Linked DNA regions of Homo sapiens: all the other regions are linked to region 2. Evidence: fine-mapped expression QTL. A gene starts in region 2. Each other region holds a variant in brackets. All regions are shown on one strand. Distances are from middle to middle. Region 1 overlaps FNDC3A (fibronectin type III domain containing 3A). Region 2 holds the start of FNDC3A (fibronectin type III domain containing 3A). Region 3 holds the start of LOC107984559 (a long non-coding RNA gene). Region 4 has its middle 160 kb from the start of FNDC3A. Region 5 overlaps FNDC3A (fibronectin type III domain containing 3A).

Evidence for each region. PIP is the estimated chance that this variant, and not a neighbour inherited with it, causes the effect.
Region 1: its variant is the best candidate, but not a certain one, in a credible set for the expression of FNDC3A in whole blood (INTERVAL, PIP 0.75).
Region 3: its variant is the best candidate, but not a certain one, in a credible set for the expression of FNDC3A in whole blood (INTERVAL, PIP 0.72).
Region 4: its variant is the best candidate, but not a certain one, in a credible set for the expression of FNDC3A in fibroblasts (GTEx, PIP 0.56).
Region 5: its variant is the best candidate, but not a certain one, in a credible set for the expression of FNDC3A in whole blood (INTERVAL, PIP 0.88).

The regions. Positions count from the first base shown.
Region 1 is chr13:49,189,041-49,194,148 of GRCh38, forward strand. It overlaps FNDC3A (fibronectin type III domain containing 3A), which reads left to right. Exons shown (of 26, transcript NM_001079673.2): 18 at 1,975-2,080; 19 at 2,169-2,344. Among named protein-coding and RNA genes, the nearest start is that of MLNR, 29 kb to the right of the region's middle. The variant C/CT (reference allele first, on the strand shown) is at 1,921.
Region 2 is chr13:48,972,698-48,977,805 of GRCh38, forward strand. FNDC3A (fibronectin type III domain containing 3A) reads left to right here and starts at 3,215. Exons shown (of 26, transcript NM_001079673.2): 1 at 3,215-3,480. RefSeq lists enhancers at 2,420-2,479, 2,750-3,369, 3,180-3,479, 3,370-3,989, 4,150-4,249 and silencers at 2,930-3,199, 3,530-4,009.
Region 3 is chr13:48,863,546-48,868,653 of GRCh38, forward strand. LOC107984559 (a long non-coding RNA gene) reads left to right here and starts at 1,380. Exons shown (of 3, transcript XR_001749987.2): 1 at 1,380-1,441. The variant G/C (reference allele first, on the strand shown) is at 2,378.
Region 4 is chr13:48,813,270-48,818,377 of GRCh38, forward strand. No RefSeq gene overlaps it. Among named protein-coding and RNA genes, the nearest start is that of FNDC3A, 160 kb to the right of the region's middle. The variant T/C (reference allele first, on the strand shown) is at 2,708.
Region 5 is chr13:49,199,230-49,204,337 of GRCh38, forward strand. FNDC3A (fibronectin type III domain containing 3A) reads left to right here. Exons shown (of 26, transcript NM_001079673.2): 24 at 2,571-2,737; 25 at 3,928-4,055. Among named protein-coding and RNA genes, the nearest start is that of MLNR, 19 kb to the right of the region's middle. The variant G/T (reference allele first, on the strand shown) is at 2,975.

The DNA of each region.
Region 1 (5,108 bases), 220 kb after region 2:
TTACTTACTTCAAAAAAGTTGGCCATTATTTTATTATTAGAGACTCAATAACCAAAATGAACTTAAAATGTACCATTGATATAAAGACATAATGTTCTAGGGATGTATGTTTATTAATGAGTGATTTTTTTTTTTTTTGGGAAACAGTCTCACTCTGTCGCCCAGGCTGGAGTGCAGTGGCACGATTGGGGCTCACTGCAACCTCTGCCTCCTGGGTTCTGCAACCTCTGCCTCCTGGGTTCAAGAATTCTCCTGCTTCAGCCTCCCTAGTAGCTGGGACTACAGGCGCCCCCCACCACAACTGGCTAATTTTTGTATTTTTAGTAGAGACGGGGTTTTACCATGTTGGCCAGGCTGGCCTCGAACTCCTGACTTCGTGATCCACCGGCCTCAGCCTCCCACAGTGCTGGGATTACAGGCATGAGCCACCGCACCCGGCCAAGTGATTTTTTTTTTTTAAATGAATTAAACCAAGAATGGTTTCTTGGATCATTCATAATTGCTGGGTTTTTTTTTTGAAATGAAATTTAATGCAATGAAAGTATTCTTTTTTAAAAATGAAATATAGGCATTTTGTTGAAAATGAAACTAATGTGCAACTGAGTGTGAGTCCTGCCCAACTGGCTTGTGCTCCAGTTGCTTCATTTTATCCAGTAAGAAAATCTCCCTGGATTTCAGAAAAGCAACAACACATAGACATGCACAAAATCCTGTTCTACTATAGCATTTTACAGCATTTTTACATAGATAGCTTTCTGATAAAAAGATGACCAAATATTTTGTGTTTAAAAAGAATGTTAAGTATGAACCTTAATATGTTGCAAGTAAGTAATATGCCACTGAGTTTGTGGCATTGTTTTTTTTGAGACAGAGTCTCACTCTGTTGCCCAGGCTGGAGTGCAGTGGCACGATCTCGGCTCACTGCCAGCTCTGCCTCTTGGGTTCACACCATTCTCCTGCCTCAGCCTTCCAAGTAGCTGGGACTACAGGTGCCTGCCACCATGCCCGGCTACTTTTTTGTATTTTTAGTAGAGACTGGGTTTCACCATGTTAACCAGGATGGTCTCGATCTTCTGACCCTGTGATCCACCCGCCTCAGCCTCCCAAAGCGCTGGGATTACAGGTGTGAGCCACCGCGCCCGGCCCAGTGTGGCATTGTTTTTAACAGAGTGTCTTTAAAAATAAAGGCTTTTTAAAATATAAATATAGCATAGAAACTAAAAGCAGTATCAAATACCTAGAAAGATGCCAAGTAACTGGAAAAGCTTACCTGATTTTAGAATTATTTTTAGGTGGAAAGGATGAAGGAAAGATAATCTTTTAATGTATAAGTTAAGCTTGGTGCAGTGACAAATGTGTATAGTCTCAGCTACTCTGGACGTGGGAGGATTGCTTGAGCCTAAGAATTTGAGGCTGTAATCATACCTGTGAATAGCAACTGCATTCCATCCTGGGCAACATACCAAGACCCCATCTCTAAAAATAAATAAATAAATCAGTGTTTAGGTTAAAAATACAGTCTACAGTAGTAAAGTAGCCAAAATATTCTAAACCTCCTTACAACAATACAAACAGCATATACAGTATTTTAAAACATCCCTCCTTAGAAGAGATTTATGGATCCTTTTGGAGAAGATCAAAAATATTGCCCATTAAATTGTGTTGGAAGTTGTTTTTTTCTTTAGTTATGGAAAGAAAAGGAAAGGAAGGGTTCATTGAAGTTCTTTTTCAGTAACTTGCTTTGTATATAGTAGTTGCACAGTACATGTCTTTCTTTGTCTATGAAAATTTTGAGTTTTTATTTAATTGGGTTTTCATTTTTTTTCAGAACTTTATTCCTTTTTTGTTGACAATCAAGTACAATTTCAAATTATCAGTGCAATATTTGTGTTTATATTATTTTTCCTTACCAAAAGCAAT[C/CT]TGATTATTTGGTTTTGGGGCATTTTTGTTTTCTTTTTGCTTTTGTTTTGGCAGGTCTCTGAATCTTTACTTGTGCAGACTCCAGCTGTGCCTCCTGGCCCATGCCTCCCTCCCAGATTACAGGGTAGACCCAAAGCAAAAGAAATACAGTTACGATGGGGTAATTTCCATTTTGGTAATAAATTATAATTAAGCTAGAACAGGAAGTATTCGTCTTGTTAAATTGCATTAATCTTTCCATCTTTTAGGACCCCCTCTGGTTGATGGTGGATCACCCATTTCCTGTTACAGTGTGGAAATGTCTCCTATAGAAAAAGATGAACCTAGAGAAGTTTACCAAGGTTCTGAAGTAGAATGTACAGTGAGCAGCCTTCTTCCTGGAAAGACATACAGCTTCAGACTACGTGCAGCTAACAAAATGGGGGTAAGAAGACTGTGCTGGTAGAATTATAATCACAATGGTGATATATGTTTCATTTTAACATATATCATCATATCCATTATTTGGCCATTTGGCTTTAACATATGACTCCAAATTTTACAATTTTTAACAAGCCTACATTGATAAATACAAGAGAAGTCGGTATATTCCATAACTTAATTTTTATGAAATCTCAGTATTTTTAGATCCCACTTACAGTTTGTGACACTTTGGACTTCAGCTGGGCTAGAGTTTACCTTTTAGGCAGTGTTAATAGAGTTTACTTAATCAATTTAAGAGTAGAAATAAAATCATAAGTACTGAAGTTTTTTGAGGCTGATTGAAGTTTTTGAGGTTTTTGAGGCTGATTGAAGTTTTTTGAGGCTAAAGTAGCATTTACTTTCAGTTGGCAACTAATTATGATTCATTTTTTTTGCCCAAATGAAAAAAAACTTATGCTTGAAACTATTCTGGTTTTGTATGTATTTTTTGAAATATTATCTATGTATTTAATATATAACTCCAAAAAGTGGACAAAGTAGGTGATATCTCCATTTCACAACTAAGGAAACGGGTTCAGGAAAGCTAAATATTTTGCCCACAGTCATACAAACTAATAAGTGATAGAGGTAAGCTACAAACCTTAGTTTGTCAGACTCCAGAGCCAAAGCTCTTTCCACTCAGCTATGACACCTCTCATCTCTCTGCAATAAAGCAGGTTCCCTAAGGACAAAGCAGTAATTTCCTATCTCAGCTAAATAACAATTTCTTTCAACTATTGTATAATTAAAATTTTTATAGAATTAAACTGACAGTTCTCTCCTACCCATTATTTTGGTGAACTATACTATATTTCAAATCCTGTTTTCCAACAGGGTTCTGTATTTACATCTGTAAACTTATTTTTCAATTTATTTCTGTTTGATTTTTTGAAACAGGGTCTCACCCTGTCACCCAGGGTGGAATGCAGTGGTGTGATCTTGGCTCTCTGCAACCTCCGCCTCCTGGGCTCAGGTGACCCTTCTACCTCAGCCTCCCAAGTAGCTGGGACCACAGGTGTACATCACCACACCTGGATAATTTTTTCATATTTTTAGTAGAGAGAGGGTTTTGTCATGTTGCCCAGGTTAGTCTCAAACTCCTGGGCTCAAGAGATCTACCCACCTCGGCCTCCCAAAGTAGTGGGATTACAGGCAAGAGCCACTATGCCCGGCCTAAATTTCTTATATGTCAAATTTATATACTTAGGCTGCTCTTACACAAGTCATTCCTTTCTGTAAGAAGCCATCTTGTCAGCCTCACAAGGCTGCAGTACACTAGGATCGCATCTTTAATACTTACGTCTTAATTTATATTTTCAGGTTTGTGATAATTTGTCAAAATCACCTTAAGTAAATATTTACTTTCCGTATTTCCAGAGAACATACATTTTAGACCTTTCTAAAGCTATTCCAGATTTTAAGATAAAATTTATGCCTACCAGAGAGCAGTACTGATAAATAATGTACTATAAGTACACTATTTACAGTTTTATTTTAAATAAAATCCATTCAGCATGCTAGAATGGTGAAGCTTTGTCATTATTTTGTTGTTGTCGACATGAATTAACCTTGTTCAAAAAAGGGGGGCAAAAAAATGACATTTGTCATGGAAAACTTTTTTTAATCCCTATAGGACTTGAGGAACAGAATCCTTACTTCAGTTCTTATAAATAGTTGTGCTAAACCTCAAGTTTCTATCATTTAGTGGCCCTTTCCATGCTCTCCATGAACTAAACTGAATTATCTGTGTGACTGATATGTTTTCTTAGGTTGCCTTATAACATGTATAACAGTACTCTTTATTTGTAGATACCTTTGTATGTATGTGTGTGTATAGACAGATAGACAGACTTTTTTTTTGAGACAGGGTATCTGTCACCCAGGCTGGAGAGCAGGGGTATGATCATGGCTCACTGCAACCTCAACCTCCCAGGCTTAAGCGATCCTCCTGCCTCAGCCTCCTGAGTAGCAGGGACTATAGGTGCACACCACCATACCAGGCTGATTTTTTACTTTTTTATAGAGATGGGGGTCCCCTTATGTTTCCCAGGTTGGTCTCAAACTCTCGGGCTCAAGTGATTCCCCCACCTTAGCCTCCCAAAGAGGTGGGATTACAGGCATGAGCCTCTGCACCTGACCTTTTATATATACTTATTATTGTAAATCATTTGCTGCCACTAGCAGTCTGTAAGTCTATACTATTAAATGACATATTGGCCAGGCATGGTGGTAAATGCATGTAATCCCAGCACTTTGGGAGGCCAAGGTGGGTGGGTCACTTGAGGTCAGGAGTTCGAGACCAGCCTGACCGACATGGTGAAACCCCTTCTCTGCTAAAAATGCAAAACTTAGCTGGGCATAGTGGCGTGTGCCTGTAATCCCAGCTGCTCTGGAGGCTGAGGCAGGAAAATCACTTGAACCTGGGAGGCGGAGGTTACAGTGAGCTGAAATCATGCCACTACATCCAGCCTGGGCGACAGAGTGAGACTCTGTCTCAAAAAAAAAAGCAATTAAAAACAAAAAACTATTAAATGACAGATTTATATTTGGAATTTTGGCTAGGCACAGTAGCTCACACCTGTAATCCCAATACTTGGGGAGGCCGAGGCTGGCAGATCACTTCAGGCCAGGAGTTCGGGACCAGCCTGGCCAACATCGGGAAACCCCATATCTACTAAAAATACAAAAATTAGCTGGGCTTGGTGGTACCCACACCTGTAGTCCCA
Region 2 (5,108 bases):
GAAATATTTATTGGGTAGCTTCTATGTGCCAGGCACTGTGCAGGCCCAAATAGACATGGTCTTTATCCTAATGTGGGGAGCAACAGACATTAACCTAGTAGTTACACATACCAAAATGTAGTTACAAGCTGTGGTAAGTCATAAGAGGGGAGGGTATATGGTGGTAAGAGAGCTGACATAACAAGGTATCTTGAATGTATCTGGGAGGTCAGAAATGTTTTTCCCAAGGATGTCGCTTTCAAGCTGAGACCTGAAGGATGAGTAAGAGATAGGATAACTAAAGGAGAGAATGGCATGTACATAGAGCCTTTGGTTGTTGGGATCATAGCATTTTTGAGAAACTAAAAGAAGACCAGGAAGTCTGCCCAGGAAACAAGGTGAAAATGGTGTGAGATGAGGCTGGAAAAGGCAGGTAAGGCCAGACCTCGTATGGTCTTTTAGGCTGCCTTAAGAATTCTAGACTTATCCTAAAGCAATGAGAAACTGTTTAAGGAGATTTTTGGAGTAGTGACATAGTCTCATTTGCTTTCTTAGAGGATAATTTTGGCTGCAAAATGGAGACTGAATGGAGGATCCCAGATTGTATACAGTGAGATCGAATTAGATTGGTGGTGATTGGAAAGAAGTAGACCAATTAGATTTTAGAAATAAAATTGCCAGGAGTTAGTGCTGCAACAAATATGGAGAATGGAAGAATGGAGGTGAGGGAGACATCAGCGGTTACTGACTACTAGATATTTGATTTGAATAACTAGAGAGATGGGGGATAAGGAAAACAAGTGTTCATGAACTCAGTTGGACTAAACTTTGCAACTTTGAGATATTAAGTGGCCATGTCAGTGAAGCTTGGAATTTAGAGGTAGGGTCAAACTTTGACTAGTGGATCAGATTTGGAATTTAGAGGAAAGGTCTGGGCTGGAGGCATATATGTGGAGATCACTGGCATATAGATGATAACTAAAGCCATTGGCGTGGGTGATGCTGCTTAGGCCAAGAGATTACAATGAAAACAGAAAAGAATCTAAAACTGAATTTTAAGGTACTGTTATATTTAATAGTTAGGGAGACCAGCAGGAATATGCAAAGGAATCAGAGAAGCAGTGCCTAGGAAACTAAGGAGGAAAACCAAGAAAATGCAGTGTCAAAGGAAGAAGAAATGTTTAAGAAAGAATAGTGGTCAAAGTGTTGAGTATTGTTGAGAGGCCAAGAAAGATGAGGATTGAAAATGGCTCCCATTTTATTGATAAAAAAAAAGTGAAGCATTGAGAAGAGAACTTGTTCAAAGCCAACATAATTTCTTGACCCTCTCTCTGTTCCCAGAGAACTCATACTGGTGCACATGCTAGGGTCATTTATGTGTGGGTTTTCTTCTCTCCAAAGGCCATAAATTCCTTGGTCTTCACTTTACTTCACCTTACTGCATTGCATATTATTGACTACAATCTCTAGGTCTTCAATAACATTCTTAAATTATGTGTTAATCTCCTTCAAAAACAGCTGATCTTCTTTACTCTGCCTTTACATGTAGGCATGTCCCAAACATATTTTTTTAAATATAGTTTTTAAAAGTGCCATGTCTTGGCCTCTCCCTGGACAAAGGAATCAGAATCTTGAGGGGGTAGATTGCAGGATTCTGTATTTTCAAAAAGCTCCTGAGTAGGAAGCAGAGTAGGAAAGTATTAGCTTAGCGGTAAGTTTGGAAACCACTATCTTAGTCTCAGACCAAGCATAGTTGGGCAGTAAGATGGGGAAGCCACCCCATTCGCCCACACTCTGATAAAATCCTCATACTTTGAAACAATATACAGTTATACTTCAATTATTCCAAGATCAACTTGCCAGCTGTCTCGAAGAGGGCCAAATCCAAAAGTTAAGAAAAGGAAACATCTCTCACAGGGAAAGAACTTCTGATAGTGAAGAGCAATGAAAATATCTCAAGATACCACTGCCCTATTTACAACCAGAAGAAAAGAAACCTCTCATTAGCTGGCTGTGGACATAAACATCCCATCAATCTTCACCTGGAGCCGCAGAGAAAACCAGCCGAGAAAGGAGAGAAGAATGAAAAATAAACAGTAAAGCAGAAAGAATAAGAGGAAGGATCAGAGTGGATAGAGGCAGATGAGGAGATGAAAAGCAGTGAAGGATTTTAGAAGAGGTGATGAGAACATTCCAAAGAGGGAAAAAAAGAGAGCACCAAAGTAGGGATTCTATACACCGCAGCAATCCTCTGGGACTTAAACGTATGGCCAAGATATCGGTTTGAGAGTCAGTTATCAACAAAGGATTTAATTAGCCATTGTATTCTTTAAGAATATAGAGAATAATCACATTTTAAAGAGATTTCTGTAAAACAGTTTTAAAAATACAGCTATTTTAAAAGATCGCACAATTAATACACTGAAATAAAGCCCAGACATGCAACTTGTTACATCCATCACCATTTTTGAAAGGACAGTTCCTGAGGCTGGACTCACCGGCCCAAGTACTACCCCCTCCCCAGGTCTCCGGCGGCAACTGTAAGTCAAAAGCCCTCAGGCATTATTGCAGCGTCCCACATTGTTTGAGGTTCCAGGAAGTCGCTGCTACGCTCACTTGTAAGTCTTCGTGCTGTTGTAAAAATTGAGGTCGTGGTTTTCCACGCGATTTGGCTGGCGAAGAGACCACGAAGCCACCCCCCACGTTTTCAACTGAGTAAATATCTAAATATTTTTGCTTGCTATCCAGATCCTGGGTTCGAAGTCTTTGGGATTAGAAACTTCCAAGCCCATTTCAGAGGCTTCCTAGTCCTTGGGAGGAGTGTCTTTTAAAGCACCTGCCAGCCTTAAGTTCGCGTGCTTTCGGAAAGGGGCCGACAGGGTGCGTCTCAGGGGAGCCTTTTGAAATGTGGATTGAGAATTGTGTGAGTGTCTCTAGGAACCTCCATTAACTCCACTTTTCCTGAGTGTAGCTCCGAGCCTGGCCACAGCGGATGCTACCACAAGCCAGGCGCAGCCGGGCCTCGGGAGAAAGCCGGAAGCCCGAGAGGGTGTGGGCGCTCCGGGAGCCAAACGCGGCCGCTCAGCCGCCACGCGCCGGTGGCCCCGCGGGGACTCGCGTTCCGGTGAGAGAGCCCCGGCGCGGCGGGCTCGAGGCGGGGGTTCGGGGTCCCGGCCGCGGGCTCCGTCGGCGGGGCCCGCGCAGCCGCACTCGGCGCGCCGACTTCGGGCTCCTCCTCCCGGCTCCGTAGTAAGCATGGCGGCGGCGGCGTTCGTGGTCCCTCGGGTGAAACAGAAAGCGGGAGCTACGCGGAGAGGGAGCGAAGAGCGGGGCTGAGGCGGCGGCGTCACTGCCAGGAAACAACCCCAACAGTCAGCGCGCCGGCGGCCGCGGCGGCCCTGAGAGCTGACTCTGCAGCTGAGGTAGAGAGACAACGATCAGGAACCCTAAGAAGAGGCGCCAGAGGAGCCGCCTTCTGCCTCAGAACGGCGTGACTCGGAGGTGAGAGCGCGGGCACTCCCTCCGCGAAAGGCGGGGGACACCGAGCCGTCCCAACCCCGTCCCGCCCCGGAGGAGGCGCCGCGGAAACCGTTAGGCTGGGACTGAGGGCCGGGGCACTCTCCAGGGCTCGGCCCCGTCGAGGGGCGCGGACCACCCCCTTCTGTGGGCGCGCTGTGGGCAGAGGTGCAGAGGGGCAGTGGGGCCGGGGACAGGACCGGTCTACTAGTCGGGCACCTGCCGGGGCCGAGCCTAGCCAGGACACGCTTGCGGGGGCGCGGCCGGGGGCGCCATCCAGCCCAAGAGGAGGCGGCATCTAGCCCGAGGGAGGTGGCGCTGGTGCGCGGGCGGCCCTTCTCTCTGTCCCCCGCCTCCTCCCCGCGGCGAGCCGCGTAGCTCCGGAGGGCTCGGGGGCGGGGGCGGGGGCGGGGGCTGGGGCGGAATCCTCCTGAGAGGATCGCCCAGCACCCGCGGCGCCTTCGGCTTTGGCCGCCCGGCAGCCGCCGAACTTGAACGCTTTTCTGAAGAGAGTTTTCCCCGCTCATCTTGGGGTTAAAACCTCGAAAACCCGCCCTCTGTTTGATCCTGCGTGGCTGCTTCCAGTACCTGGCAGTTCCTCTCCCCGGGCGAGTTAACCACCTGTTCAGTCGGGAGGTGGACTCGAGGCTGCAGTCCTCGCCCGGTTTTAACAACCTGGATCTTCGAACTTTTGACACGGCTTTGGAAACGACGTCATGTGTTAGGTAAAGGAAAATGAACAGATAATTTCGCTGTCAGATTGCGAGCAGAAGAGGGACTGTTTTAATGGATGTGGTCGTTAATTGTTCTTTTATTCAACTGTTAGCGTTACAAGCCTTGGGATATTTTAGAGGGTGGAATGCGATGATTTGCTGGGGGTGCTAGAGATTGTGAATTCGAGATTTTCTTTTGTGAGATTTTACGTAAGTTCCTTTGGACACCTTTGTGTCTGACCATCTATTAAATAAGAGTCGCAGGCTGATGAGATTTTTTTTTTCTTTTTGCGGTATAATCATTATGTGTTCACTATGGGTTTTTAAAACCGAACAACGTAATTATTTTGCTTCTTACTGTGGTCTGTGTTTTTTAGTTCTTGAAACCAAAGTGTGTATGCTTCTGTATTGTAGGAATGAAATAACAGTTGAACTCTTACTATAATATTTTATCACCATGCTGTTACCAGCTCCAGTACTAAACATACGCCACTCAGGAGTTTGAGCCATATGTTAGGCAGAAACGAATTGAGTTTTGTGGTTCTGATCTTATGTTTGGATAAATATTTAGTTTTTGCGTATTTACTAACTCTTGTCATCTTGTGTCACCCACAAATGTTCAAGTGAGTTGAATCCCCTGTCTTTTGGATATTTTCTTGGTTGAATTAATTTTTCTTAAGTAATGAGATGAAGTACTCACTGAGACAGATGGTGGCCCAACAGAAAACAGTGATGAAGGATTTTTACCACATCTTTTATGAAATATAACCTGAAATGTTGCTTTTAGCTTTGTAGCCTACTAATCTTGCTTTCTAATCACACCAGTTAGTGGGAAGAAGGGATGATGACAGGAGAAACATCTTGTTAAAATTTTAATATTAAATCTTATATTTAAATTTT
Region 3 (5,108 bases), 110 kb before region 2:
TTCCAGAATTCAGGATCGATATGCAGCAATGCAGTCCTGACCTTTTCACCATGGAATCAGTAACACCATTGAGACCAGTAAGTGCACTTGTCCGAAGTACAGCCAAACTTCCTGTGTTCCTGCCTATACCCCAAGGCATCCAGCCCTCTTCCTGATCCTCTCTTCTTCCATCTTTGCCACCCTTCTTCCCTGTACTTGTCCTTGAGCAGTTATGTAATTGCTCCCTTCCCTTGGTTTAAGTGTTAAAGACCCAAGGCCAAGGAGAATCTGTGATTGGGGTTTGGAATTATTTATTGGGATTCTCAGCAGGATTCTCATGTTGAAGGGGGATAAAGGTACACTCAGGGAGGAAAAAGGACTCAACAATTTTGGCTCTGGATCCTTAGGATATGAAGTATTGAATCTAAGGGATGGAAGAGGATTCAATGAGACCAGTGCTTCTAATCCAGCCTCACAGCCAGGCATGCCAGTAGTAATTATAATAATACTAACAACAACAACAATAATATCTGTTTGATGCTTCAGAAATGATATGTGTTCAAGAGTAAATCAGGTGTGCCTCAGGTGTAAGATGATTTCAAGGCCAACAAGAAGGCTTTCTGGGCTTTCTGAATAAATCTCCACTGAGCTTCTTGACAGTGCATGCAATTCTTTTAACACAGGGACAAAGATTTTCCCCAACACAATTAGAGATAAAAAGGCTTAAAAATGTAAATGTATAGGAAAGGTGACACACTGGTATTGATTTGATTCAGTCAATGTGCAAATGATGGTATCAGAAACTTTCTCAACTCCCTCCTCTACTCAGACTCTTAAAACAAGAATTTAGTAGTTTTTGCATCTGTCCTTGCTCATGTTCCCTGGATTCCACCCTCCTCTGAACTTTGATCCATCAATGATCCCTCTGCCTTCCAATATTACTAATCTCATTCATTCAGCATCCTCATTGCTAAGCATATCCTAGACACTGGGGATGGACAAAACAGACAAAAATCCTTGCCCTAAGAGAAAAGATAAAGCAGTCAAGAGATAATTAGGGGTCAAGGGGAGAATGCTGAAATTTTAAATAGGGTGGTCAGGGAAATCTTCTATAAGAAGGTGATATTTAAACAAAAACTTGAAGGAGGTGAAGGAGCATGCATTCCAGGCAGGAGACACAAGTGCAATGGCCCTGAGGTCTGATATCCCTGGGACAGAATGTGCATGAAAGAGAGGGTCACCAAGGAAGCCAGTAAAATGAAGTCACTGAGATCTTAAAGGTCATGGCAATTGGCTTTTGCTCTGAGTGAGATGGGAAACTACTGGCGTATTTTGAGCAGAGGAGTGATATGATCTGAATTACATTTTAATAGGATCGTTCAGCCGCTGCATTGAGAACAAACTGGAGGGCACAAGGATGGAAGCAGAGAGTCCTTTTAGGAGGCTGATGCAACAAATCCGGGTAAGAAAGAAGAAAGTGGCCTGAACGAGGCCTTAGTCATTAGGGAGTTAGCAGTGGACGTGGTATGAAGTGATCAGATTCTGAACATATTTTGAAGTTGGGGCCAATAGTATTTGCTAAAAAATCAGATGTAAGGTATGAGAATAAAATAAGAGTGAAGGATAACTCAGAGGCTTTGGGCCTGAGCAACAGGAAAAATGGAGCTGCTGTTTCCTGGGATGGGGAAGATTTTGGAAGGATTAGGCACAGGGGTAGAATATCAGGAGCTCAATTTTAAATGCTAACTAGACATCCAAGTGAGATGTTAAAATAGGCAGTGGATATATAGTCTATAGTTTTGGGGAGAGGTTCAGCCTGGTATTTAAAGTCATGACACTAGGGAAAAACCACCATGGGAGGAAATATAGAGTTAAAAAGGCAAGAGGATGAACTGGTCTCTGGCACAGTCCAATTTTTAGAGGTTGTGGACGTGGAGAGGAACCTGCAAAAGAGGAGAAGGAGCAGCCAAAGAAGTAGAAAAACTAGGCAAATGTGATGTCCTAGAGGCCAAGGGAAGAGAATATGTCATGAGAAGGGACTGATGGGTCAAATGCCACAGATGGGTCATGGAAAATGAGGACTTTTCATTGACCATTGAATTTAGCCATCAGAAAGTCTTTGATGACTTTGACAGGGAAGTTACAATAGAATGGTGGGCACATTCCTACACTCCACCACTGCTCATGGAAGTTAATTCAGAAGAAGAAGAAAGATGAAAACTTGGAGACAACTAATAAAGAAACTTCTTTTGAGGTGTTTTGCTGAGAATGGAAGGGGAGAAACAGACAATGGCTTGAGAGTGAAATGGGAGTTCAAGACTTTTTGTTTTTAAAATGAAAGAAATCTTAGTGGGTTTGCATGCTGATGCAAAAGGGAAAAAAAACGGTTAAGTCAAGA[G/C]AAAAGAGAATTCTGAAGCAGTGGCCTTGAGCAGAAAGAAGTGATGGGATCAAATGAGAGGGAAGAGAAACCCCGTCTTAAAAAAAAAAAAAAAAAAAAGGTTGGGGAAGGGATTGGCTTTAGTTAGGAATATGGACAATGATCCATGTTTTCCACTCATCCTTCCTCTCAGCCTCTTTTAGCATCTTTTGGCTTCCCTGTTGCAAAACTAAGAGCAACAGGCTGTTTGCATCCCTCAAAATTCATATGTTGAAATCTAATCCTAATTTGATGGTACTTGGAGGTGTGGCTTTAGGGAGGTAATTAGGGTGATGCCTTCATGAATGGAATTAGTGCCTTTACAAAAGAGAGCCCAGAGAGATTCCCTTGCCCCCTCAACCATGTGAGAACACAGCAAAAAGTGGCCATGTATGAACCAGGAAGTGAGCCTTCACCAGACACCAAATCTGCAGCCACCCTAATCTTGGACTTCCTAGCCTGCGGGACTGTGAGAGATAAGCGTCTGTTGTTTTACAAGCCAATGGTATCCTATTAGAGCAGTGTGAACAGACTAGGGCAGTAAGCAATCTTCAGTTGCGTCTAACTATGCTCTATAGCTCTGCTTCCTTCTCTTTATAGTCTGTTGTCTTCAAAACATTGCCCACATTTGCTCTGCTCCTGTGGTTCCCTTTCGTTTGTTGGCACGAGATAGCCCAGCTTCTGCGCACCAGTGGCTCTGGAATTGCCTATTTCCAGGGACTGTTTTTTGTTTTTTTTGTTTTTTCTTTTTTTACTGAACCCTTTCTCAAGTGTCTGTGCGAAGAGACCACCAAACAGGCTTTGTGTGAGCAACAGGGCTGTTTAGCAAAGGGTGGTGGGATTATCGTTAGTTCTTACAGGTTTTGGGATAGGCGGTGGAGTTAGGAGCAATGTTTTGTGGGCAGGGGGTGGATCTCACAAAGTACATTCTCAAGGGTGAGGAGAATTACAAAGAACCTTCTTAAAGGTGGGGGAGATTACAAAGTACATTGATCAGTTAGGGTGGGGCAGAAACAAATCACAATAGTGAAATATCATCAGTTAAGGCTATTTTCACTTCTTTTGTGGATCTTCAGTTGCTTCAGGCCATCTGGATGTATATGTGCAGGTCACAGGGGATATGATGGCTTAGCTTGGGCTCAGAGGCCTGACATTCTTATCTTCTTATATTAATAAGAAAAGCAAAACAAAATAGTGAAGTGTTGGAGCAGCAAAAAATTTTGGGGGTGGTATGGAGAGATAACGAGTGATGTTTCTCAGGGCTGCTTCAAGCGGAATTAGGGGCAGTGTGGGAACCTGCAGTGGGAGAGATTCAACTGAAGAAAGATTTTGGGGTAAGGGGTGATATTGTGGGGTTGTTAGAGAAACATTGGTCTTATAGAATGATTGGTGATGGCCTGGATACAGTTTTGTATGAATTGAGAAACTAAATGGAATACACAAGGTCTGAATAAAAGAAGGAGAAAAATGGGTATTAAAGGACTAAGAATTGGGAGGACCCAGGACATCCAAGTAGAGAGTGCCCAAAGGGGTTCCGCGTAATTACTTGCTTGGTTGGTGAGTTTTTGAGCTCTATCCTTGACAGAGTCCTCTTTTTTAGGTTGGAGGCTGAGCTTGGTGAGGTTTGTTTTTAAAAGACCATTAGTCCGTTCTATGTTTCCTGAAGATTGAGGACAGTAAGGGGTATGAAGGTTTCACTGAATACCAAGAGCCTGACAAACTTCTTGGGTGATTTGACTGGTAAAGGCTGGTCCGTTATCAGGTTATATAGAGGTGGGAAGGCCAAACCGAGGAATTATGTCTGACAGAAGGGAAGAAATGACTGCAGTGGCCTTCTCAGACCCTGTGGGAAAGGCCTTTACCCACCCAGTGAAAGTATCTACCCAGACCAAGAGATATTTTAGTTTCCTGACTCTAGGCATGTGAGTAAAGTCAATTTGCCAGTCCTGGGCAGGGGCAAATCCCTGAGCTTGATGTGTAGGGAAGGGAGGAGGCCTGAATAATCCCTGAGGAGTGGTAGAATAGCAGATGGAACACTGAGAAGTGATTTCCTTGAGGATAGATTTCCACGATGGAAAGGAAATGAGAGGTTGTAAGAGGTGGGCTAGCAGCTTGTAACCTACATGGAAGAGGTTATGAAATGGCGACAGAATTAGAATGGGCCTGTGAGACTGGAAGGAGATATTTTCCTTGGTCCATGAACCATTTGCCTTGTGTTCAGTTGGGGAGTAGGTGGGAGTGACCAGATGAGAAGGAGAAAAACTGCCATGAGGGATAGAAGTTGGAATGCTAGCTGCTTTTTTAGCTACTTTATCAGCATAAGCATTGCCCTAAGCGATGGGAGCTGATGCCTTTTGATGGCCCTTGTAGTGTATGACTCCAGCTTCCTTTGGAAGTAAAGTGGCCTTGAGAAGAGTTTTTATTAAAGAGGCATTAATGATGGAGGAGGACCCTTGCACAGTGAGGAAACCTCTTTCAGCCCATATAACATCATGCTGGTGCAGGATATGGAAGGCATATTTACAGTCAGCATAAATATTGACATGCAATTCCTTTGCAAGAGTGAGGGCTCGAGTTAAGGCAATGAGTTTGGCTTGCTGAGAGGTAGTAGAGGGGGGACAGAGCAGTAGCCTCAATGATAGATGTGGAAGGTACTATAGCATAGCCTGCCTTTACTTATGAGTGGCGATTAGGCCTGGTAGAACTGCCGTCA
Region 4 (5,108 bases), 160 kb before region 2:
TGTTACTAATCCCTTATAGGACAGAAAGTTCACAAATAATTTCTCCCATTCTGTAGGATGCCTCTTCACTTTGTTCATTGTTTGCTGTGCAGAAGCTTTTTCAGAATACACAGTTTTTAAACTTCTGCATATTATACCCTGGTCAATTGTTCTTTTTCTTCTTAGGCTATTCCACTCCATAATTCTTTTCAGCTATTAGAAATTCACATCATAAATATTTTCTGATCTCTTTTTCTCAAAGTATATTTTAAAACATAGGACAAGAAAATGATCTTAGATCTTTTAAGAAACATCAGGAAAAAAAATAATAATAAGAGACCCAGGCTGTGAAATATAAGACGCATTAATGAAGTATTTTTAGCAACACTGACGCAATGGAAAAATTAAAATGGAATTTAAAGTTCCGAATGAGTGGGTTGAAGCAGGGGCACAAACATACTGAAGTGTAGGTGGCAGAACAGTCACAGGGAGAGAAATGCAAAATGCGGAGTTCTGTTTTCAAAGGAGTTTCCCTTCTATGGTTGTGTAAGTGAAAAGAAACATCAGACATTGTCATGATTGGATTGGCATTGAGTAGAAGGTTGGAACAGACTGGCCACTAAGATCAATTAATCTAACTTTAATAATTTCGTGATTCTACAGCTTTCAAATTAACTGGAAATTTACCAGATTAATGCTTTTGTTGATACTGTGTCCATCTTGCCCAGACTAATTTTTCCTGGTGTTTACCTTGCAGAACACAAAGATCGGCCAGGCACGGAGGCTCACCCTGTAATCCCAGCACTTTGGGAGGCCGAGGAGGGTGGATCACCTGAGGTGAGGAGCTTGAGACCAGCCTGGCCAACATGGCAAAACCCAATCTCTACTAAAAATACAAAAATTAGCCAGGTGTGGTGGTGCGTGCCTGTAATCCCAGCTACTTGGGAGGCTGAGGCAGGAGGATTGCTTGGGAGATGGAGGTTGCAGTGAGCTGAGATTGTGCCACTGCACTCCAGCCTGGGTGACAGAGTGTGACTCCATCAAAAAAAAAAAAAAAAAAAAAAAAAGGAAAGGAAAGAAAGAAGAAAGAAAGAAAGGAAGAAAGAAAAAAAGAAAGAAAGAAAGAAGGAAGGAAAAAAAAGAAAGCTGAAGACCATGAGAACTTCTTCTACCAAAGGATTCTGGGATAAATATATTTTTGGCCATTTGGCATACTATAGATTAGGGATCAGCAAATTTGTCCCGTGAAGGACCAGATAGTAAATATTTTAGGCTTTGTGGGTTATATAGGGTCTTCTTCTCCTCTTCCTCTTCTCCCTTCACCTTCTCTCCCTCCTCCTCCTTCCACTTCTTCACAACCCTTTAAAAATATAATGAATATTCTTAGCTTGGAAGCTGTACAAAAACAGGCTGTGGGCCATGTTTGGCCCATGGACTGGTAGTTTGCCCACTCCTTAATATTCGAAATATATATTAGCACAGTAAAGACTCTGAAAAGATCTGTAAGATAAAAATCTGTTTAACCAGATTTATCCCAAACTTATTGGACCAGAAAACTCTTTTTCTCTTAACCATTTCATATCTCACATAATTAGTTTTCCATGGAAAATACTTTGGAAAATTCTGACCTTTTTTATATAGAGAGAATAATAAAATTTATCCCTACTATATAAAGAAACACTCCAAATGGCTTAAAGACATAAATAGAAAAAGTACCAGAGACTATCTCTGTGGCCTTGGAGTATGACTATATTCCCAAGCAAGATTCCAAAAAAATTAAGCACTAGGCAAAAATTATGAATTTGACTACATCAATATTAAGGATTTCTGTTCAACAAATAGCATGACAGAAAAACTTAACAATTGCATAAAAGATTGGGAGAAAATATTTGCAATGTTAAAAACCATAAAAGATTAATATTTCAAGGAAATTTTGTCAATTAATAAGAAAAAGATTGGGACTCTAAAAGAAATGCAGGTAAATGATGTCAATAAGCAATGTATAAAAGGGGAAATCAGAATGGCTAACAAATATATGTTTAGCTGCATTAGCAATTGTAGGAATGCAAATTGAAAAAAGAATAAAATACTCCTTTATACTATGCATAAGTTGGCAAATATTTTTAAAATTAGATAATAGCCAATATTAGCAAGTGTGTAGGAAAATGGCTTTTCTCATGCACTGCTTGTGAAAGCATAAAACCAGTGCAACCATTCTGGAGAAAAAAATTGGCAAAACTTAGTGAAATTTAGTACATCTAGTTTCACTCTTGAGTCTAAACCCAGAGGAAAGTATCCATAGATCCAAAGATGACAGGTACAAAGAAGTTCATCACAGCATTTTATTTCATGGTAGGGAAGGGATACTGGGAGGCAAAATAGCTGCTCATCAGCAACCAAGGGATGGATAAATAAAATACAGCTGAAGCTCATATGGAATACTATACAGCAGCCAGAAACAATAAACTGGAGGTACATAAAGCAACATGAATAGAGCTCCTGAAACTAGTGTTAAGTAAAAAAAGTAAAATTCTGGGCCAGGCTCAGTGGCTCACACCTGTAATCCCAGCAGTTTGGGAGGCCGAGGCAGGCAGATCACATGAGGTCAGAGGTTCGAGACCAGCTTGGCCAACATGGAGAAATCCTACCTCTACTAAAAATACAAAATTAGCCAGGTGTGGTGGCACATGCCTGTAACCCCAGCTACATGGACGCTGAGGCAGGAGAA[T/C]TGCATGAACACGGGAGGTGGAGGTTGCAGTGAGCCAAGATCATGCCGTTGAACTCCAGCCTGGGCAACAAGAGCAAAACTCCATCTCAACAACAACAACAAAAAAGTAAAATTCTGATCGCACTACAGACAGTGAGATCTATAGCATAATGTCAATTATAAAACTAAAAACATATATACATATTTTTATATATCATATACATACTAAACATAATGGTGGGGTATCATAAATAAAGGGGAAAAATAATATAAGTAGAGATGAGGTTTCACCATGTTGGCCAGGCTGGTCTTGAATTCCCGACCTCAGGTGATTCACCTGCCTCGGCCTCCCAAAGTGCTGGGATTACAGGTGTGAGCCACTGTGCTTGGCCAATTTTTTTTTAATACAGATTACCACTGTCAAGATTGTAAATAATTCACTGGTTATAATTCTTAAATTTTATACCAAAATTATATGATTTTCCCAAAGAATACATTATCCTAAGTCCTTGCAGTATAATTTTATTAGTATGGCTTTTGAACTATTCATGTCCCCTATGTAAACAAAAGCTCTCAGTGAAAAGGCAGTTCATTTTGAGAGGTACTGTAATATATGTAAGAGTATCTTGAGTGTGTGGAAATAACATGGATTGATTTTCCCTAGGTGGAGAAGCAGGATGAAGCAAATACATCTAATACTTCCTCATTCACTCTACGTTTGCATATTTGTATCAATTTCAAATGAAATTGCAACTATAATCTGCCTATGTTACAAGATCAGAGTAAATTCCCTATAGCAAAATAATCAAAGCAAAAAACAAAAAACAAATGCACACATGAGGAACTCAACAAAAAGAGCTGAATTAGAGCTTTTCAGCACACACTCCGAAAAACATAAACACAAAGCAACCACAGGCAGGCTATAAATTGTCCTGAGTTACACAATGGAGTGATAAGACAGAGATGACCTGGAAGATGTGAGCTGGCGGGACTGTCTGAGATTGATTAGTTGGCTGCCTTAATGCACAGGTAATAGGATGCCTTTCAGCTCCAGTCTGCCTATTTTAGTCCAAATTTGTTTTCCCTCCTGCCTTAAAAATTAGAAGAGTCCCTGTCACTTCAGTTCTGCAATTATATGGAAGCTCATTCATCTCACAATACTCCAAAATACACAAATGCCATCCTTTTTTTGCTATGCAACACAAAATGCAGTGCTCTTTTATCTAATGCCATCAACACGCAATCTCACAACGTACTTCTGAAGAAATTGATTCCAAAATTTAGCAAAATGTCAAGGTTTGGAGAGGAGATGAGAAAAAGAGACAACACTATAATAGATGCTAAGAAGAGAGCCAGGAGCAAGCTGCAAAATTGAAGATACCAGATGTGAAAGTGAAACCATCTCTATTTCATAGCAAACCTGAGCAGCAAACAATGATTCCAAACCTGCAAAGTGGAGCGCATGTGTGGTGAAAGGAATGACAGGCTATGTCATTGGGAAAGTGGAGAATTTCAGAGCCTAATTTTGGGAGTAGCCAGAAAACCAACCAAACAAATTGATTTGGAAGAGAGAGGTATGGAACTTTATGCAGAGGTGACAATCGTCAGGATAAAGGCCAGCTTAGGAGTAGATGCACAACTTTCAGCATGCCAGGTGTCTCCTACATGAAAAGTTGTGTTTTGGGCAGCCTTCTCCAAGCCTCCATCTATGTGATCCTAAACTGATGTCTCTTGGGGAGAACTCTAGCCTAATCCAGTCCAGAGCTTTCACATGTAGGTTTGTGAGCTGTCAACATGAGTATTCTGATATCAGAGGGGACTTGTACACAGAAAACACTATCGTTATCAGATAGAAATCAAATTAGTTGATTAAATACAAATTTAAAACCTTGTTTACTTTAAGGACTTGAGGTTTAACTTAAAAATGTTATTGGGCTATTATATCTGATCCATTCACATCAAACATTCTAAGCATCTGTAACAAGGAACTCCCCTTTCAAAATTAGTTAATCAAATACCTTTTAACACTTTAAGCCTCATTAATAAAAATAATGCATTTCATTTTTTCAGCCCTTCAAATGCCTAAATGGCTTCTGGCTTACAACCAGAAGAAGCAATAGCTTCTTCAAATACTTAGAAGGTTTTGTAAAATGAATGAATTAAAATGTTAAGCTCTTTTAAACAGTCTAATACTGGTTATAGGCCAAGTCCATTTTTCTTATGCTGTTTTTGCTTATATGAGAAGCCTAAATTCAAATACACATTTTAAATCAAATGCATAAGACTTACATGTCAGTTTCTCCAATGTAACAAATTCTCTGTGACATGACACGAGCTTTTACTAGCAAGCATTTATTAAATATCATTACACTTGACACACAAGTATCAATACTATGTGTTGGTTATATTTTATCATCTCTAT
Region 5 (5,108 bases), 230 kb after region 2:
ACACTGGTCTCGAACTCCTGGGCTCAAGTGGTCCTCCCCGCTCAGCCTCACTGAGTGCTGAGATTACAACTCATGAGCCACTGTGCCTGACCGAAACAATTTTTTTTTTTTTTTTTTTTGAGACGGAGTCTCACTCTCACCAGGCTGGAGTGCAGTGACGCGATCTCGGCTCACTGCAATCTCCGCCTCTCAGGTTCAAACAATTCCCCTGCCTCAGCCTCCCAAGTAGCTGGGACTACAGGTGCGCACCACCACGCCCGGCTAATTTTTTGTATTTTAGTAGAGGCGGAGTTTCACCATGTTGGCCAGGATGGTCTCCATCTCCTGACCTCCCGATCCACCTGCCTCGACCTCCCAAAGTGCTGGGATTACAGGCGTGAGCCACTGCACCCGGCCCTGAAACAATTTTATAGTAAATGATTATGATCGTTCCTGGCCTCTGAGATCCTTGAGGGCAGAGATTATGTTTCAGTCTTTTCCAGATTCCTGACACAGGGCCTGCACGCTAAATGAATACAGTTCAGTTTTTCACTGTGTGATCTCAGTTAGATTCTGTGATTAATTATCTAGTCCCTTTGCTAATCACTGTTGCTAATCTTTGCTAATCTTTGAATTAGAAAGAACCTAATTTCATTCAGGTTCTTTCTGTGCCTCTTTCACATCTTCATGTACATGTTGTACTATTCCTATATAATGTGCCATATACTGCCACACTAAATCATGTATTTTAATTACAGTGTTAACTCTGAATATTTGTAACAGTCATTCTAATGCCAACTAGGGCTATTTATTCACATTATATTCCATATAAGCAATGCCACATACCTCCCACAGCTGTTAATCCTTTAATATTTTAAGAATTTTGAATTTTGCTTTTCTACTTTTCACTGAATATATTAGAAACAATTTCCAAATCTGATGGACTCAGAATACTAGTAACAGTTTTTCCCAAGATTTACTTTTCTGTGTTGTTTGTATCTTAGCCAGGTATTCAACAATGAAATATTCATGGTGCTTGTACATAACCACTCTCTATCAGAAATACTTATACATTTAAAATAACATATGGAATAATTTTGTATACTAGTATATCACCAGTAAGAACATTACACAGAACAAACGTGATCATTTCCTAAAATCTGTATCGATGAATGTTAGCCTTTGTTCTTGGCAGAATTTTATGTAATCTTTGTAGCCTTATCTCTACAAAGAGATTATTTGCCTTGTACAGGTTTTTGGTATAGCCATTTATCTTTAATATATGTTATTATTACTGGACAAATTAATTGTTTAAATTTTTTTCCTCCCCTTTCTAGCATACATTTGGGGTAGTGCAAGAAGGCTTACTGGAAACAGGTCTAATTAGTGTTTGGTTGAAAGATAATAGAATAAAGATTCTATTAGATATAAATTCTATTATAGAACTTCCAACTTAATATTCAGCTAGCATCTAGAGAATTGTTATGGGGTATGAATATGGCTCATGGCCTTTGGTTGTGGAAAATAAAGAAATTAAAACCTTTTATGATACTGTTAAGTTTAATGCACACATTTAATAAATTAAATCAATTTAATATCTTTGATTACTTTCATTCCCTTTGATTTTCACAACTATATACACTTGCTGTGGGATGGTATCATAATGATACTTTAGTTGTTCCCTGATCCAGATTTTGTCATTGTTCAGCTTTTTTAAACAGTGGTATTACCACTATTTTTTTTTCCTGTCATTAAAAAAAAATTTAGAGGTTGAAAAGGCAAGGCTTATCCAATTACTGCTTATTGGAAGTACTGTTTCTTCCTGTCATTAAATATTTCTTTATTTTTAACTTGGCTACAATTTTCAGACTGTTAGCATTGAATAAGCATTCATTATTCATTCTCTAATTTCCAAAAATTTTAGAAACATCCAATCAAAAATAATGGGATGCATTCAACTTATAGATAACATATTAGGAGAAATATGTATGATATTCAACTTCATTGAACAGTTCAAGTGGGTAATGTATTGGAAATTTTATATTATCATACTGCTTTTGTAAATCTCTAAAAAAACGTCACCAAGTCAACTAAAAATCTGCCTGGGAATTGAGAATTCTCTTTTTTCCAGATAAAGACAAGGAAGATTAAAATAGAAACTTAATCTCATAGCTCAGGTCTCTATGCCATACTTGGCAAATTTTATCAATATGACTTTAGTTAGAAATAATTTGTAATGAAAATTGTGATGTTCTGAGCATCTTTTAAAATGTACATTAACAAAACAGTATTCAGAAACAAAGCTAAACCGGAAGCCTGAGAAGAAACAGTTATGGTCGGACATGAAATTTAGTAACAGACTTTTGGTAAATCATGTCAAATTGGGAAATTTACCAAATATCCTATTTTTCTTAATCTGATGAAAAACAGATTTATTTTAAGTGACATAGAGTTCCTGGCATCAAACTTTTGGGGTAACTTATCACTCCTAAATAATGTTCATAACTGTGTTTTTATACTAGTTTGTAAAACACTTTAATAAGGTATCATAAGGTAGTATAAGGTTTATCTAATAGTTATTTCCATTTTAGGTTTGTATCCCTATACAGAGGACCATGTCATACATACAAAGTACAAAGACTTAATGAGTCAACATCCTATAAATTCTGTATTCAAGCTTGTAATGAAGCTGGGGAAGGTCCCCTCTCCCAAGAATATATTTTCACTACTCCAAAATCTGTCCCAGCTGCCTTGAAAGGTAAGTTATACATCCTGAACTTATTTTCTTTATAATAAATTACTTTTTAATGTATTTTCATAAATGCTTTGTTTACTGATATTAAAATTTAGCATCCAGTATATGTCCACCAGTTATACAAAATCGTATAGGCAAGCCCAACTCTACTGAGAGTTCCACTCAATAATAAAAGCTGTTTTATCTGGCACGCTCATATTCAGACAAGTACTGGCTTTTGTCACTGATGTTTTTAATAAT[G/T]TAGCATAAAAATACTAAATTGAATAGGAAGGCTGGTTTTCTAATGAGGTCATTTGCTTAAAGAAAAAAATCACAAACTCTGGTTGTTTAAACGTTTTGAGTTATTGATATTACATTCATTTGGATTTCAGAAGGAAAGCTTGGTCATCTGTTAAGCAAAACAAATTCTTCATTAATGTGGGTTTTTCAATTAGTTTTACACACACATGTACACATATTTACACACATTTGTATATACATTTATCTTTTAATTTTAGAGGGGTTCTTATTTTAAAGTGACTCTGGCAAGGGCTACACTCTATTTTTAGCTGAAAAGTCTATAAAGTTAATTGCTCTGAAGACTAATCACAGAGACTTCTAGAACCATATCCTAGATCATGTACTTAAACCTATCATTTGTTAAACAGCAGAACTCTTCTTGACTAGTCTTTCTAATAATATTGAGTTTCACTGAGTCATTTTTCTGTTTGCTCATCAAGTTTAGTGTCTCTTAGCTTTAAGAAGAGTGCTGACTATAAGCAGGGCACAGTGGCTCACACCTATAAGCCCAGTGCTTTGGGAGACTGAAGTGGGAGGCTCACTTAAGGCCAGGAGTATTGAGACCAACGTGGGCAACATACTGAGACCTGCCTCTCTACAAAAGAAATTTTGAATCAGCTGGGCATGGCAGCATATGCCTGTGTGTGTAGCTGCACAGGAGGCTGAGGCTGCATTGAGCTATGATCGCACCACTGTTGTCCAGGCTGGGTGACAGAGTGAGATCCCATATCTTAGAATACAAGAGTGCTGATTTTAACCTCTTTGGATGCAAATTTCAAAAATTCACTGATACTTATTTCAAGTTTATAAGTGGATTTTAAATATTTGTTGATTTTTATTAAGACAAGTGTCTGCATGATGTACCAAATTAAAAATCAAGTGGAACAGATATTATTTATATTTGTTTCCTACAGCCCCCAAAATAGAGAAAGTAAATGATCACATTTGTGAAATTACATGGGAGTGTTTACAGCCAATGAAAGGTGATCCAGTTATTTACAGTCTTCAAGTTATGTTGGGAAAAGATTCAGAATTCAAACAGGTATGTACCAAGATATTAATGTGTGGATGCATATTTTTACCCTTTTTTAATTTTTATGTATTTTCAGTGTAAGATTTGGCCATCTTTACCTTTTAATTCATAAATATTTATTCAGTATATATTATGTTCCAGAGATCTCAAGATTCCAAATCTTTTCAGTATGAACTACACTTGAACAGATTATTCATTTATCTGATAAGTATTCATTGAATTCTGTGCCAGGCACTCAGGATATAGCACTGAACAAAAAGTCCCTTGCCTCCATGGAGCTTACTTACATTCTGGTGGAAAAGAAGACACTATAAGCAAGTAAACATGACAATATATTGTCAGATATAAGTGTAATGGAGAAAAAACAAAATTGGATAAAAGAAATAGGGAGTGGAGGGGGAGGGCACTGAGTGTTATTTCATTTGGGGCACTCAGCTGACATTTCAGCATGGCCCAGAGGAGATGACTATGGAGAGAAGAGTGTTCCAAGAAGATACGCTGAGGCAGGAACATGCCTATTAAATCTGATGAACATAAAGGAGCCAATATGACTGGATGGAGAGAGCAAAGGGAAGAGTTGATAAGGTCGGATAGTTAATCCTAAGGGGCCTATAGGTGGTATGGAGTGACGTAAGGCATAATAGGCCATACTGTGGCTTTTACTCCACGTGAAATGAGAAGACAGTGGAGGATTTTGACCAGGGTATTCACGTGATCAGACACAACGTTGTTTTGACTATAGTGTTGAAACTACAGTAGGACAAGGGCAGAACTAGAAAGACTAATAAGGAGGCTTTTACAATAATAGTATTAATAATAGTCATAATGCAGTGCTGTAAATATGACATTAGGCATGAAGTTATAATGGAAACCTAGAGGAATTGTCACCTTCCTAGCCAAGAGGTTTCAAAGATAGCTTTCTGATAAAGCAAGAATAGCAGTGAGATAGAGTGGAGTGTTGCCAATGTTTGTTACAACTTTTAAAAAGAATAAGCTTTTATACCACTCCAAAGACTAATTAAATACCTATACATTTCACCTGATTTTCCCTTTTTCCTGTAA